Regions from separate parts of the Homo sapiens genome. Here region 1 is linked to region 2. A link means that fine-mapping ties the variant in region 2 to the expression of a gene that starts in the linked region. Tissue or cell type: blood mononuclear cells. Region 2 holds a variant in brackets; the other region holds the start of a gene. All regions are shown on one strand. Distances are between the middles of the regions.

Region 1 (8,084 bases), 190 kb after region 2:
TTACTGGCAGGGAGGGAAAACATTCCCACAGTGGCTTATATACTGAAGACACTCACCAAATATTTGCTGAAGATATGTTGCTTGAAACAAAATCTCATTTAAAAAAAAATCAGGCCAGGCACGGTGGCTCACACCTGTAATCCTAGTACTTTGATTTAGGAGGCTGAGGTGGGTGGATCGCTTGAGGTCAGGAGTGCGATACTAGCCTGGTCAACATGATGAAAACCCCAACTCTACTAAAAATACAAAAATTAGCCAGGCATGGTGGCGGGCACCTGTAGTCCCAGTTACTCAGGAGGCTGAGGCAGGAGAATCGGTTGAATCCAGGAGGCAGAGGTTGCAGTGAGCTGAGATCACGCCACGCCACTGCACTCCAGCTTGGGCAACAGAGCGAGACTCCGTCTCAAAAAAAAAAAAAAAAAATCAAACTGAGTTTTAATCTAGCTATGCTGGGACAGCCCCACAGTGGCCTGCATAATAATGAATGACCATTCATTAAATAGTTGCTGAATATTGTTTGAAAAATCAGATTATGTAGAACAAACTTTAAAAACAACTAGGTCTTAAATAATAAAATTAGATATACCTACAATATATTAATTCAGGTCTGAAAATATCATGTTGAAATCCCAACCTTTTCCAAATGCATAACATTAAAAACATCAGATCAGCACTAGGGTCCCAAGAGTATCTCCACATTTATGTAATCATCATCACATTAGCCCTGACTTCACATAGGCAAATCTTGTTCTGGTGCAAACCAGTCAACAATAAAAGGCTAAAGTTAACATCTGAGTTGCTACCAACTATAATTCATTTTGACTATGATAAATCAAATTTTAGCAACCGATCATCAGTTAGATGCCACTATTGAGTCCACAGTGACTAGATTTCAAATTCAAATGTGTTGGCACTGACTATGCAAACCTACCAGTGTTGTAGTAGGAGCAGAAACAGTCGCTTTCAGACTACTCAGTTCCTGCTGGATTAATTTTTCTTCTTCCTGAGAAAGTGAAAATATTTAAATGCTTGATTAACTGTCTTTTAAAACTGTAACAGCATTTATCTAAACGGAAAAATATAATTTACAATACTTTTAATTTAAAAGAAACATTATTTTAAAGGAGAGTTACAAATACTATCTGCTTACGATCTATCTAAAGGCATTTCTCCAAACCTCAGAACCATCCCTGGAGAGAATAAATATTTCCAGGCTAACCCATCCTTCCTCTTTTCTTTACTCAGTTACTTCCCCTTAATGGTAGAATAGCAGAAAATGTTTTTTTTTAAAACTAAAGGTGGAAGCCGGGCACAACAGCTCATGCCTGTAATCCCAGCACTTTGGGAGGCCAAGGCGAGTGAATCACTTGAGGTCAGCAGTTTGAGACCAGCCTGGCCAACATGGCAAAACCCCGTCCCTACTAAAAATACAAACATTAGCTGGGGGTCCTGTAATCCCAGATACTCGAGAGGCTGAGGCAGGGGCAGGAGAATCGCTTGAACCCGGGAAGTGAATGTTGCAGTGAGCCGAGATCGTACCACTGCACTCCAGCCTGGGTAACAGAGCAAGACTCCATCTAAAAAAAAAAAAAAAAAAAAAATTAAAGGTGGAGAGAGAGTAGAAATTCTCCATGTATTGGCCCAAGAAAAGAGTCTCATCTCACATCTTCCCCTTAGAAGTAAAAAGTCTTCATGGAATTAAGAAACAGGGTAAGAAAGCAGAAACAGAAATAGGTCTTTTTCCCTTAAACTACATTCTTCTTCCCTGTCTTTTCCTCATTCCCCAAATCCTTTCCATAACTTCCTATCTCAGACACATACCAATGTGGTCACTCCTACTGTCTGCATTGTATGTTATCTCCCTAAGCACTTAAAAAATTGGCCCCATTTTTTTTTGGCTAATATCATGCTACCTTTAAATTACACACTGAATTACATGTTCATCAGATGGCTATTCAAAAGCCACTAGTGACGTACTGATACACGTGGATGCCTATCTACAGTTTCAAACTGCTATTTAAGACCAAAAATAACTTTTTAAAAAATTTTATTGAGGATCCCTTAAAAATTAGCAAAGGACAAAAACCTTAAGAAAAACAACATTATTAAGGCCACAAATGGCCAGGCGTGGTGGCTCACGCCTGTAATCCCAGCACTTTGGGAGGCCAAGGCCAAGGCAGGTGGATTACCTGAGGTCAGGAGTTCAAGACCAGCCTGGCCAACATGGCGAAACCCTGTCTCTACTAAAAATATAAAAATTAGCCGGGTATGGTGACGTGTGCCTGTAATCCCAGCTACCAGGGAGGCTGAGGCAGAAGAATCACTTGAACCCAGGAAGCAGAAGTTGCAGTGAGCCAAGATTGCACCACTGCATTCCAGCCTGGGCGACAGAGTGAGACTCCATCTCAAAAACAAAACAAAACAAGACAAGCCCACAAGTAATGATTCTGGAATGTGAAGCAGGTTCTCTCCGGATAGCATCAACTTATTAGAGCTGCCAAAAAAATATTTTTTTTAAACCTTCAGAGCACTTTCTTTTCTGTCTTTCCTTCTCTTTTAGCACTTCTATTGCATTGTAGTCATGCTTATACTTGTCTTAAGCCCAAAACGAATGACTAATTCCTTGGGAAAAGGGAATGTGTTTAATTCTATTTTCCTGTGTCTAACACATAACCTTGTTCCATAAACATCTGTTGAACAAATAATGACATTAACACGTGCTCTTTTTAAGATATAAACTCCTTGTAGCTGTGAATCGGTATACTACACAATCCGTGCAACCATCGAGCGCCTGTGGGGGCCCGGCGCGGTGGCTCATGCCTGTAATCCCAGCACTTTGGGAGGCCGAAGTGAGCGAACACTTGAGGTCAGTTCAAGACCAGCCTGCCCAACATGGTGAAATCCTGTCTCTACTAAAAATACAAAAATTAGCCGGGCGTAGTGGCATACGCCTATAATCCCAGCTACTTGGGAGGCTGAGGCAGGAGAATCGCTTGAACCCGGGAGGCAGACGCTCCAGTGAGCCAAGATCGCACCATCGCACTCCAGCCTGGGCGACAGAGCGAGACTCCGTCATTAAAAATTTAAAAATTTTAAGGCCGGGCAGGGTAGCTCACGCACGTAATCCCAACACTTTGGGACGCCAAGGCGGGCGGATCGCGAGGTCAGGAGATCGAGACCATCCTCGCTAACACGGTGAAACCCCGTCTCTACGAAAAGTACAAAAAATTAGCCAGGCAGTGGCGGGCACTTGTAGTCCCAGCTACTCGGGAAGCTGAGGCAGGAGAATGGCGTGAACCCGGAAGGCGGAGCTTGTAGTGAGCCCAGATCGCGCCACTGCACTCCAGCCTGCGCGACAGAGCGAGACTCCGTCTCAAAAAAAAACAAAAATTAAAATTTTTAAAACCTTAAGGCTCCAGCGAGCCGAGATCGAGATCGCACCATTGCACTCCAGCCTGGGCGACAGAGAGAGACTCCGTCAATAAAAATTTAAAAATTTTAAAAGTTTAAGAATTTTTATAACTGCTCATTTTCAAAGCCCACTTGAGGCAGAGACTTAGCAAATTTTACATTTTGAGAGAACTGTGCTTTTTCTTTGCCCAACACGTTGTTGTAACCCAAGAACCTCAAGCTCCCCAAAGATATTCAACAAGAGGCTCACAGGATCTCTTCAGGTATGCGACATCTGAACTGTTGTTCAGTTGAAGGCACCGGGGGAGAGAAGGAAACTGAGTAGGGAAAAAAAACTTTGTGGAAGGTAAATAATGTCTGACACTTCCATCGCACTAGGTATTTTCACACGCTTGACATCTCACCCAATCCTCAAAACAAACAAAAAACCTATGAATTATGTATCAGTACTTTTCCACCACAACGTTGAGAAAACACACGGAGGCTCAGAGGTTACAGAGATGTGCCCCCGATCAAAGAGTCAGTGTCAGAACTAACTGTGGAAACTCGGCTTCCCTGCTGTCAGTCCCAGCAGGAAAGTGAAGCTTCCAGGCAGACGAAAGGACGAACCGACACAGCAGCCCCTGAGCCCCGCCGGAGGGCTAACCCCAGAGGCCCTGAAGTCTCGCCGCCCGGCCAGGGCCTCCTGGCGCGGGGGCCTCACTCCGATGTCCCTGAGCTCCCGGGCCGGCGGGCACCTACGTGCTTGGAGGTGAGGGCTGTGATGCCGCGGACAAGGCTGCCCAGCCTCGAGGAGAAGGACGCCTTGGCGGCCGCGGGCCCACCACCGGGCTGGTTCTGCAGAAAGAGTCCCGGCAGCGCCGTCAGCGTCTTCTCCACTATGTCGCTCATCGCCGCCGCCGCCCGCGATGCCGCCGCCGCCCGCGATCCCGTAGCCGCCCGGCTTCATGCCCGGCCGCCGCTGCCGGCCCGGCCTCCGTAGGCACTTCCTGTTTTTTGAATAAGAAATCTTTATTGGCGTCCCACCTGAACAAGTTCAGCGTCGTTCTCGCGAGAGGCCACCAGAGGGCGCAAGAGACCGCGGGGGTGGAAAAGGCCGCTCGCTCGAGATTGCGCGCGTAAGTAGACCTCCTTTCTCGCGACGGGGTAGCGGTTCCGGAATCCCCCAGAACCGTGAGTCCTCCTGAGGAAGCCGTCGGGGGCCTGGCCCTGTTAGGCACTGTCTCCCAGAGTCCCCCTTTCCCACTAGCCGCCTCCGCGTAGCCCGAGACCGCGTCAGGAGTTGCGTCTTCCTGGCTGCGCCTTTTTCGGGACGTCCCCGCGCCGTCCGCCGCCTCTCACTGTCCCCGGAGCGCGCGCCACCCGCCCGCTTCCCACAGGCGGTTTCACGCGGGTCCCCGGCGCCGCGCGCGGCTCCGGCCCTGGCGACTCTTGGGACACCCGAGTAGTTGCGTGATAGCGGGGCTGTCCTGAGGATTCGGCGTGCCAGGTTGAGAGCCCGTCGCGTGCCGGGGACTCGCGGCCACTGTCGCTTCCCGTCCGCCCCTCTTCTCCTGGGATTTGGGGAGGTGGGCGGGAAAGAGAACTGGTCGGCGGCCACCCTTGCCGACTCCTCCTCAGCAGGTCGCAGTTGAAAGGTCATCCTTCTAGAGCCCACTCCCCTGGCCCGGCGGGCAAGGATAGGTCTCCAAGTCCCACCCTCTCACAGCGCTCGGTTCTGTTCCACTTTAGAACAGGTCGCAGTTGCCACTACGTAAACAGCTCCCCATAGAGAGAGTATTTTATTCATTCCGATTGCTCCGTCTTTTATCTAGAACAGAGTCTGGTACAATGGCTCTCGAAATGTGGTCTGGTGACCTCAGGGTCGCTGAGACCCTTCTAGGGAATTCACAAAGTCAAAACAACATTGATAACGTTTCTTACGTGTTATTTGCCGTTTTTACCCTCATTCTGTTGGAAATGTACAGAGTTTTCAAGCGGCTAGATGACGATTGACTAGCTGGTAAAATGTATCCTGGAGTATCCTTGTGTTTTCTAGAATTTTCTAAGGTAGTAGGTTTAGGGCATAAATACGTGCGTTTTCAGAGATTAATGCAATTTGCTCTCAGTACTCCTAGTGTGTTTCTAGGAGGTAGGTTAGGTAGGTGGTGATAGCCTCCCTTCAAGGGGAACAAACTTGCTAAATAAATAGAACAAACCAGCCCATAGTGTACAAACCACATCCGAGGCTCCTGGTTAGAAAATTTTGCAGCAAAGAGGTACGAGAGCAGAAGGGAAAATCCCCAAACTCTCACAAGCGCAGAAACCCATGATCAGTGTCGTTGGGCTGAATTATACTCATTATAATAGTAAAAAAAAAAAAAAAAAAAAAACACCACTCCTGGGTGAAGATTTAAGATACTAATAAGACATGCAGTGTATGTACTAGCATATACAACCACAGCGCACATGGCGACAGAAAACCAGAGAACGTGCTTAATAGCAGCACCCGTTCTCCCCGCTTCATGAATGATCCTGTGAGACTCCTACAAAGGGAGTTTCCCCAGTGTCAGTGCATGCTGTCTCACCTTTGAGCAGCCCGCTCTGATCAGCTGTGAGGGTGTACTTTCGCTTTGCAATAAACTCTTTTGCTTGCTTTTACTTTGGACTTCAAAATTATTTTGCACCGCGAAGTCCAGAACCTCAACCGGCCCACCAGCTACAGCTACACTTACAAGCTATCTTCGGTTATACCTGCTCTAATCTCTGTAACCTCCTTGTCACCTAATAAATGAGTTTTTTTGAAATCCTGAAGTTGTTTTAATACCTATATGGGAACATAAGAAAAAAGTTCAATTTGTTGGCTTGTCTCGCAAGAATATTTTTTAATATATTGAGAACATTTTAAAATATTTAAACTTTATCTAAAAGGGATACTCATTTATTCATTTAATTTTTTTTTTTTCAGAGTCTCGCTCTATCACCCAGACTGGAATGCAGTGGCACAATCTGGGTTCACTGCAGCCTCCTCCCCCTGGGTTCAAGCAATTCTCCTGCCTCAGCCTCCCGAGTAGCTGGGATTACAGGCGCCCGCCACCATGCCCGGCTAATTTTTGTATTTTTAGTAAACACAGAGTTTCACCATTTTGGCCAGGCTGGTCTCGAACTCCTGACCTCAGGTGATCCGCCCACCTCAGCCTCCCAAAGTGCTGGGATTACAAGCGCGAGCCACTGCGCCCAGCCAGAAAGGGATACTCTTTTAGAATTTAATTTTGTTATTTTATTATTATTTTTTGAGATGGTGTCTCGCTCTGTTGCCCAGGATGGAGTGCAGTGGTGTGATCTCGGCCCACTGCAACCTCCGCCTCCCAGGTTCAAGCAGTTCTCCTGCCTCAGCCTCCCGAGTAGCTGGGATTACAGGTGCGTGCCACCACACCCGGCTAATTTTTTGTATTTTTAGTAGAGATGTGGTTTCACCACGTTGGCCAGGATGGCCTCGGTCTCCTGACCTCATGATCTGCCCGCCTCAGCCACTCAAAGTGCTGGGATTACAGGTGTGAGCCACCACGCCCTGCCTAGAATTTAATATTTTGTCGTCCGGGCGCGGTGGTTTATGCCTATATTCTAGCACTTTGGGAGGCCAAGGCGGGCAGATTGTCTGAGCTCAGGAGTTCCAGACCAACCTGGCCAACATGGTGAAACCCCGTCTCTACTAAAAATACAAAATATTCGGACAGGCACGGTGGCTCCCACCTGTAATCACAGCACTTTGGGAGGCCAAGGTGCACAGACCACAAGGTCAGGATATCAAGACCAGCCTGGCCAACCTATGACTCTACTAAAAAAATACAGAAATTAGCCGGGCATGGTGGCGTGCGCCCGTAATCCCAGCTACTCGGGAGGCTGAGGCAGGAGAATTGCTGGGACCCGGGAGGCGGAGGTTGCAGTGAGCCGAGATTTCACCACTGCACTCCAGCGTGGGCGACAGAGCAAGACTCCACCTCAAAAAAAAAAAAATACAAAAAATTTAGCCGGGCATGGTGGCACACCTGTAGTCCCAACTACTTGGGAAGCTGAGGCAGGAGAATTGCTTGAACCTAGGAGGCGAAGGTTGCAGTGAGCCAAGATCGCACCACTGTACTCCAGCCTGGGTGACAGAGCAAGACTCTGTCTCCAAAAAAAAAAGGAATTTAATATTTTATCTTTAAATTAAATTTTGTTTTATGTATAGTTTTTTAATTTTAGGTTCTTCCATTGGCTTAAAAAGGGGATACTAGAAGATTCGCTTTCTAACCTTCCCGTCTGTAAAGATGCCGAAAAAGATGAAGCTGACATCAGTATCAGAATTCACTGACTCAGGGAAAGGGAGAAATCTGGTCGAAACTATAAATAACAAAGGAAAGTATGACAAAAGCTTCTTTCTTTCCCTTGGCATTAGAGATGTTAATCACTTGCCTTATTTTATGTCATTCAACAGAACATTTTCAAATACTATTATGGTGCCAATCAAGTTGAGGCATCATTTTCAGACCAGTCAGAATTTAAAAGAAAGGGAATTTAATACTTTCAACATAGAGATGATATGCTTTATAAAAGCCAAAGCTTTTGTATTACCATTTTCAAAGTAAAAATGAAAAACCTACTGAAGCATCTTACACATGAAATTATTATATTTCATTGATAGGAGAAGGACA
Region 2 (8,104 bases):
CACAGGCACAGTCAAGAGGCCAGAGAAGTAATGGAGAGAGGCCCAGGTGTCTTACTAAGGGATAACATTAACTTATGCCTCCTCAGAGAATGAGCAAAGGCTTATGGCAACCAGGCATGGAAGATTCCTCTTTTAGAAGGGTTGATAGCTTCAACCAGGCAGATTGCTTTGAACACCGAAGGGAGGGATCCGTTTAAGGACAATGCCAAGAGAAGACTTGGCGGGAAAGAAAATGTTGGATAGATAGAAGAGAGGAATGGAAAGTTTGAAGACCCAGAAAAGAAGAAAAGGGAAGGGAAAGGGGAGGAGATGGAGGGAAGCTGAGGGAAGAGAAGGGGAGGAGAGGGGAGAGAGTCTTTGATAAGATAAAGAAATTGAAAAGAGGCATTGGTCAAGTCCTGCTTTTGTTAATTCCACTCCAGATGTATATGGTCTAGTAGAACACTGGTGTACAGGAGGTAAAAGGAGAGGAAAGATCAGTAATGGGGAGAGAGATTTGGGAAGTGAGGGTGGAAACCAAATGAAAACTGGATGTAGTAAAGGAAGTAGCAGGAAGTCACTGCTGTCCTGGGCTGGAGTAGAAGGGCTATAAAGGAGCATGGTAATATGATGGGAAATCCTGAAATAGGGCCAGAGACATGGGTTCTGGTCCCATTTGTTCTTAACTCTGGGCAAACCACTTCACCTTTCTAGATTTATTTCTTCATATCTAAAGTGATGGGGTTAGACCAGGTGACCTTGAACATTTCTTCCCCCTTCTACAGCCCTCGACTGGGTGTAGATGTTATGAAATCAGAGACTTACATAAATGGAACCTTCCAGATTGGAACATGTATTTAGCTTTTCTAAGTAGAAAATGCTTTGAAGGGAGGAACAAAAGGTTCCACTCAACACTTGGCGAGCGATATTTGTTCTGTAAAATAATTAGTGAGTAAGCATTATTGAACTGGGTTGTCACATAAACATGAGAGAATTAAAAGAAAAAAACAAATTTAGGAGACTCAATTTTCCCTTCCATAGATCAGAAGGATGATTAACATAAACCACGAGAGGATACTTTTAAAGACATGCGCAGGAGGAGAGTCAGCATCAGATGAAAGCATGCCTGTCTGGGGAATAGGAGCCTTGAGTTCTAGTCTCAGCTCTGCCACTCCCAGGACTTGGACACATCATTTCCTTTCCATGTCTCAGTTTCCAAAGGAATCCAAAAAGTCGTGGACTCCAGCCTCCCACAATACCCCTACCCATGGTCATCTAGTTGTAATCATTAAAAAACACTTTCTTATTCCTGTACCACTGGTACATGTCTGTATCAATGAGGTCTAACTAGGAAAATATTTTACTTATTTTCTTTTCTTTTTCTTTTCTTTTTTTTTTTTTTTTTTTGAGACAGAGTCTTGCTCTGTCGCCCAGGCTGGAGTGCAGTGGCGCAATCTCAGCTCACTGCAAGCTCCACCTCCCAGGTTCACGCCATTCTCTTGCCTCAGCCTCCCGAGTAGCTGGGACTACAGGCGCCCGCCATCACGCCTCGCTAATTTTTTGTATCTTCAGTAGAGATGGGGTTTCACTGTGTTAGCCAGGATGGTCTCGATCTCCTGACCTCATGATCCGCCCACCTTGGCCTCCCAAAGTGCTGGGATTACAGGCTTCAGCCACGGCGCCCAGCCTACATATTTTCTGTCTTTCTTTCTTTCTTTTTTTTTTTTGTTTGAGACAGAGTTTTGCTCTTGTTGCCCAGGCTGGAGGGCAATGGCGGGATCTCAGCTAACTGCAACCTCAACCTCCCGGGTTCAAATGATTCTCCTGCCTCAGCCTCCCGAGTAGCTGGGATTATAGGCATGCACCACCACGCTGGGCTAATTTTGTATTTTTAGTAGAGACAGGGTTTCTTCATGTTGATCAGGCTGGTCTCGAACTCTTGACCTCAGGTGATCCGCCTGTCTTGGCCTCCGAAACTGCTGGGATTACAGGCGTGAGCCACCACGCCCCGCACTATTTTACATATTTTCAAAGGAGATCATGCAATGCAGGTAACTGGCTACACAGGTCTGAGAAGCCAAACAGAGGATAGTGAGGTAATCTAGGCATTAGCAGCAGCAGGAAGTCACTGCCACCCTGGGCTGAAGGACGAAAGGGAGGAGGTGCTGTTACTGGAGCCAAGGGGTTGGGGTCACCTCATGAAAGCTGGAACCACAGCAGGTCCATTTGGTAGGAGCTGGAGTCACAGAGGAGATATAGCAATTGTCAAAGGTGCCAAGATTAAGGGATAGAGGATAGGGGAGAATATTCCTTCCCTGACCTGCCCATCTTCTGCCAGTGCCTCCCACTGGCTGTATCCAGCTAGAAAACAGCTAGTACAGGGGCCCGGCAAATGCAGCCTGTAGGGGTCAGCCCCTTTTCCATACAGAGGATGGAAAGGGCAAGGACAGGCAGGCCAGGACTGGCACAAGATCCAAATTCTCCCTTCTTATAACTTTTATCCATTAGTCCCACATCAGCCTAGAATCTAAGTCTCTACACATTTAAGGACATCCATCCAGTCATGCCTTGTTTGTTTGTTTTTTTTCCTTCTCCAGCCTGACATTCAAACTTTCTCATACAGAATGGTTTCCAAACCTCTTTCATCATCTTGATTCCCCCACCTTGGGGAGATCCCTGATATGTCTTCTTAAAATGTGGCACCAGATGTTCATAAGACCCCAGGTGTCTGTAAGACTAGCTCCAATACAGAAGAACTATTCCTGCCCTTATTGTAGCAATACAGCTATTATCCCACTGTTGACTCATGTTGCTCTTATGGACAACTAAGACCCACATGTCTTTCCCATATGATTTTGTCTTCTCTTACCTGTGTTAGTATGGTAATCTATACCATTGATAAGCACAAGCATCAAATTCTTTCTCTAAATCACTACTCTTGTTGTTGTCTTTAAAAAAAAAAAATAAGTAGAATAAACTAGAGCCAAGGGCAGAGCTCTGTGTCACTCCACTGGATACCTCCTTCCTAGGTAACTCAAAGCCATGAATCAAAGCTCACTGGGTAGGATTGTTCAACCTACTCCAGATCCACCTAGCAGCAAGGAAACTGTGTAAGACCTCCTCAAAACTTAAATCACAACATATGGTATCTGTGACAGTCACTTCCCTTCATTTTGCACCTGAAACACAGAGGATACTCAACAAATACTTGATACATCCCAAGTCAAATAAAATTATCTTGATTTATATACTTCATGACTCTGTTTAAAGAAAGTTAACATGGTTATTTTAGCAGGACATGGTAAGGAACCCATGTTGGCTGCTGGTGATCACCATTCTCTTCTTTAACCATTTATAAACCTGTTTGTTTCAGATTTTTGCTAGACAGCAACAAAAAACTCATCAATTGGTTATTTCCGGAATCAACTCCTTTCTTCCCTTTGAGAACTGGGGTAACATTGCCCCACCCAGTCTTTGGGTACTTTCCTATCATCCTGAAAACCACAAAGACTCTAGTTGCCGCTGAAACCTCATGGGTCTTGATTCCGTCTTCTCTCCTGTGGGAATAATACTGACCTTTTCTATGCCACAAAGCTGTGTAAGGATCCAGGAATATGGGAAGGCACTGGGCAGAGCTCAACAGTCACTTAGGGTACCCACATACAAGCTGTGTAGATGCTTGTAAGAACAGCTCTCATGCAGCAGTGGAGTCACATCCCATAGCCAAAATGAATGCCACAAGTGAGATCACACACCATGTGTGATCAGGGAGGCTCTCAGTGAACCTAAGATCCTGGTGCTGCTATTTAAAGGGCTTATAAATAACCCCATAGGGTTGGGCTAGGGCACAACAGAGGTTGGGCCCATAGAGTTTTCTTCTCTCTCTCTCTTTCTCTTCTCCCTTTCTCCTTCTCAATTTCCCTCTCCCTTTGTATCAGTGCTTTTGAGTCACTATAATTGCATTAACCACCAAGAAAGCTATCCTGCTGGCAGCTCAGGAAGCAGAAGCTAAGAACCCAGGAGAACAGCTGGATGCCAAAGTTGCCAGCCTCATCCACCCTCTGCCTCCTACAAGGGGTCTGGACTTGGATGGGGCTGTGCAGAGGACACACTGCCCACAAAGAAAGTGTGGAAGGAAACTTTGCATTCTTCTCCTAAACCTCCTCTGGGCTCAACTGATGCTGGACAAATGCAAGAATGAACTCAAATAACCCACCTGCTGCCTAGTGGAGATTATACCCATGAAAATTCTTGATAACCTTAAAGTCTTGGGATATATACAGCAATTATTTTGTTAGTTGCAATTTTCTTTCTTGTTTCTCTCTCCCAAGGAAAACGAAGGAGGCTGAAAGTTCACAGGCATTGATTAATGATGTGTGCAAAGATTTAGACACGAGGATATTGATTGATGCTATTATAGCAGAAAATTGGAAACAACCTAACTGCTCAACAATAGAGGATTGTTTAAATACATATGGTATACTCATCCAGTAGAATATTGTACAGCTATTAAAAATCATGTTATCAAAGAGTAGATGAAATGATGTTCACAACATATTGTTAAAAGGAAAAAGCAATTTACAAAAGCAGAATACTGTACACACACAGAAGGAAACTTCTCAAAAGATATGTTAACCGTGA[C/T]TGCAATTAGTAAAATTACGAATTAATTTATATTCTTTTTTGTTTATATGTATTTTCCAATTTTTCTAGTAATCTGCATTACTTTTTAAATAAGAGGGGAGACAAATAAAAGCTTATTTTTACTGGCAAGAAAGAAATAGGAAAGCTCCCTTTCTCAAGGCTGTCTTCTAGCACCATGTTCTGTTAGATGGATATCAAGCTAGCTTGGACCCTGCTCTCCAGCTTACCTACAGTCCCATGGAGGCCCCCTCAGCTCTGGGTAGAAGCTTCCTTGGGACCAAAGTCTACCTTGAGACAAATGATTAAAAATAGGGCCAACCTTTCACCTCTAAGGACCAAAGGCCACTTCAGCCTACAGAAAACAGCGGTTCTAGAGCTGGTGGGTTTTCAAAGCAGAGCAGCAGTCCTAGCGTGTGAAAAGTATCTCCTTCCCTCCTCCCACTGCTGAAGGTTTGCAGACAGCTCCCTTTCCATCCCACAAGAGGAGACAGGCAGATGAGTCATAGCACTGGCTCAGATTAAAGGAGTATTATTGTGTTAGCAGAAATGGATCTATTTTATTATCTGTTTCTTGACACCTTACAAATAGATACGCTTTACCCACCAGACAGGCAATTTCCTTAAAAAGCCAACAATTTTGTTCACTCTAGTTAAGAAATGACCAATGAGTGGTAGAAACTCGTATATCTGAAGAGCTGCCAGGCTGAAAAGATGTAGTGGAAACACTGAGGAAGGTGGCTTATAACCCTCAGACTCTAGATTCAAGTCTGCAAAGTGATGCCATTTTTCTAAAAATATACAGAGGAACTACAGAAACCCTTTCCCTTTTTCTCTTTCTTAAGAGTTTTTCCCCCCCCACAAGAAATATATCAGAACTGGTTTGTAAAAGGAGATTCACCACCTCAGATTTCACTGTTTTAGTGGGGTTGATGGTCATAGGATACTATTTTAAGGACTTCCTTCTCTTACACAGATTTTTCCATACTGGGAGGAGAGATAAGGTATGTTCCACTAATGTTCCTCATTAAACTCACACGCATGCCAGTAGTCATTTCCCTTTGTCTTGCTGTCCCATGACAACAGATTGTACATCATAGGAAATTGGAATCGAGACCTTGTTTAGTTTGGATCTCTCTTCCCCATTGTCTAATTCCACATTCAATTCAATTTTTCATTCTATGTCTGCCTCGTTTAGCAGAAATATACTATGAATGAATATAGGAGCAGGTAAATGAATAGGCATTATCTAAGAACTTCACTCAAAGACTTTTCAGGATACCTTGACCAGTTCTTTCTCTCCCCCCCATGCCCAAAGCATTTATCTCTGGGTCAAAATGTGCTAGATACTTAATGAAGACCTGACGACTGATGAGCATACATGTGTTGTAAATGTGTGTTCTCAGTACATTGTTTACTGTTGATCAAATTCCAGTAGCTTCTCTGTTTCCTTTTTGCTGTTATTCATACATGTCTCTGTGGTCTGTCTCCCTCACACTGCAACCCAGGCTACCTGTCCATTAAAACAAAAGCAAAACCAAAAAAGCTTCCATGAAGTGCAAGGAAAGGAGGTCTAAGGAAACAGGGAAAGTTTCACATTTCCTGTTATTGAATCTAGGCACAACCTTTAGAGGAAGCTGAATGCCTTTTGAATCCCATATGCTCTGTTCTGTGAAGCTATCATTGTTGTTTTACCTTATAACTGAAAAGCTATTATGGCAAACTTTTTAAATGATCCCAGCTATTTGTTTTTCGAGTATCATCTTGTATCCAAATTTTGCCATTACTTTTTTCTTTCTTTCTTTTTTTTTTTTTTTTTTTTTGAGACAGCGTGTTGCTCTTGTTGCCCAGGCTGGAGTGCAATGGCACGATCTCGGCTCACTGCAACTTCCGCCTCCTGGGTTCAAGCGATTCTCCTGCCTCAGCCTCCCGAGTAGCAGTGATTACAGGCATGCACCACCACACCTGGCTAATTTTGTGTTTTTAGTCGAGACAGAGTTTCTCCATGTTGGTCAGGCTGGTCTCAAACTCCCGACCTCAGGTGATCCACCCGCCTCAGTTTCCCAAAGTGCTGGGATTACAGGCGTGAGCCACCGTGCCCGGCCCCCACTTTTTTCTTTTCATTAAAAAATGCAACTCTAAAATATTTTGTTTTTCTAAATGGGATCCATTCAATCTAAAAATTAGTGTTCTTTCCAGTTATCAAACATTCACTGTGTGCCAGGCATTGGGTAATAGCTTTCATACTCATTATTTCATTTATTTACAAACACCCTATGAAGGAGACACCAACACTTGAGGAAACCGAGAGAGGTTTAGCCATTTGCCCAAGATAACACATCCACTGTGGGGCTCTTTTGACCATTTCATCAATATCCATCCAACTTGTATCACTAGAGTCCATGAGCTTGGCCATCCTTTGTTTTCTGAAAACACAAAGTAGAGTGGTATTTGCACTCTGTTAAGCCCACACTTCACTAAAGACGGCAGCCTTCAGGTAGACCAGAAGCCAAAACTCACTTATGACACTGTACCATAGCAGTCAGGAGCAGATCTGGACATCAGACCTGATTTCAAGTCCCAGTTCACCCACCTACTGGACGACCTGAGACCACAGGGACATCATCTGCTGTCTCTGAGACTTTTCCCATCTGTAAAATGGGAATGAAAATAAGTTGAATTCTATGAACTTGCCAACTTTCAACCATATTCTACTTCCAAAAAGTATTTTCAAATGGTGCAACCTAAATTCTTCACTGGGTCATTGTACAGATTAGATGAGGACACAAAGGGAAATGTTCAGTAAGTGGCGCTTTTTAGCAGACTTTTTCTTCTTGATTTTCTTTTGCTCTGGCCAATAATTTGCATTCTCTGGGCAGACTTTACAAGCAGAGAACCCAGCTTGAGGCTTTGTGAGTGTAGGAGCCTATAATAGGGAGGCAATAAGAGCATATAGATAACCAAGAATTAACAACAACAAAAAAGGCCTCGGTGCTCCGTGCATTTCCCCCCTCGTTTGGGCTCTTAATTAGTAAATAGGTTTACAAATGCTTTTTTTTTTCCTTTCATAAAGGATGGTGTTACGGAAGTTTAGCACTCTGTGTTTAATCCCATCAACAAAGAAAAGCTTTTAAAATTAATTCTGGCCCCTCTAGTCGAGGGCGCGAAATAGCACGGCTGCTTGATTGGCAGGGTGGCTCCAACCTTCCAGGCGAGCCAGTGTTCAGACTCACCGAGCCCCCGGAACCCGCTTCACCACCGCTTGCCCCACCTGCCCTGCCCTCGCTGGCAGAAGACTCAAACAGCCGGAGTTAGCATTACCTGCCTGTGTGTTTACTTCGTCACTAGGTGCCAGGCCCAGCGCTCGGTCCCGCACACGCCTTGTCTTACTACTTTCCACAACAGTCCAACTGTCATCTCCCCCCACCCCGCCCCCTTCCCTTATTCCCCGCTCCCTTCCCTTATTCCCCGCTCCCCTTCCCTTATT

What was found. PIP is the estimated chance that this variant, and not a neighbour inherited with it, causes the effect.
Region 1: AP4E1 starts here. The variant in region 2 is fine-mapped to the expression of AP4E1 in blood mononuclear cells (TOPMed, PIP above 0.99).

Annotation. Positions count from the first base shown.
Region 1 is chr15:50,904,997-50,913,080 of GRCh38, reverse strand. AP4E1 (adaptor related protein complex 4 subunit epsilon 1) reads right to left here and starts at 4,398. Exons shown (of 21, transcript NM_007347.5): 1 at 4,153-4,398; 2 at 932-1,003. The coding sequence starts at 4,302. RefSeq lists enhancers at 3,322-4,063, 4,110-4,279, 4,300-4,589, 4,064-4,805.
Region 2 is chr15:51,095,228-51,103,331 of GRCh38, reverse strand. All of the region lies in intron 1 of MIR4713HG (MIR4713 host gene), which reads right to left. It overlaps LOC124903491 (a long non-coding RNA gene), which reads right to left. Exons shown (of 2, transcript XR_007064631.1): 2 at 6,850-7,543. It also overlaps a transcript of TNFAIP8L3 not described here. Among named protein-coding and RNA genes, the nearest start is that of TNFAIP8L3, 4.4 kb to the right of the region's middle. The variant C/T (reference allele first, on the strand shown) is at 4,621.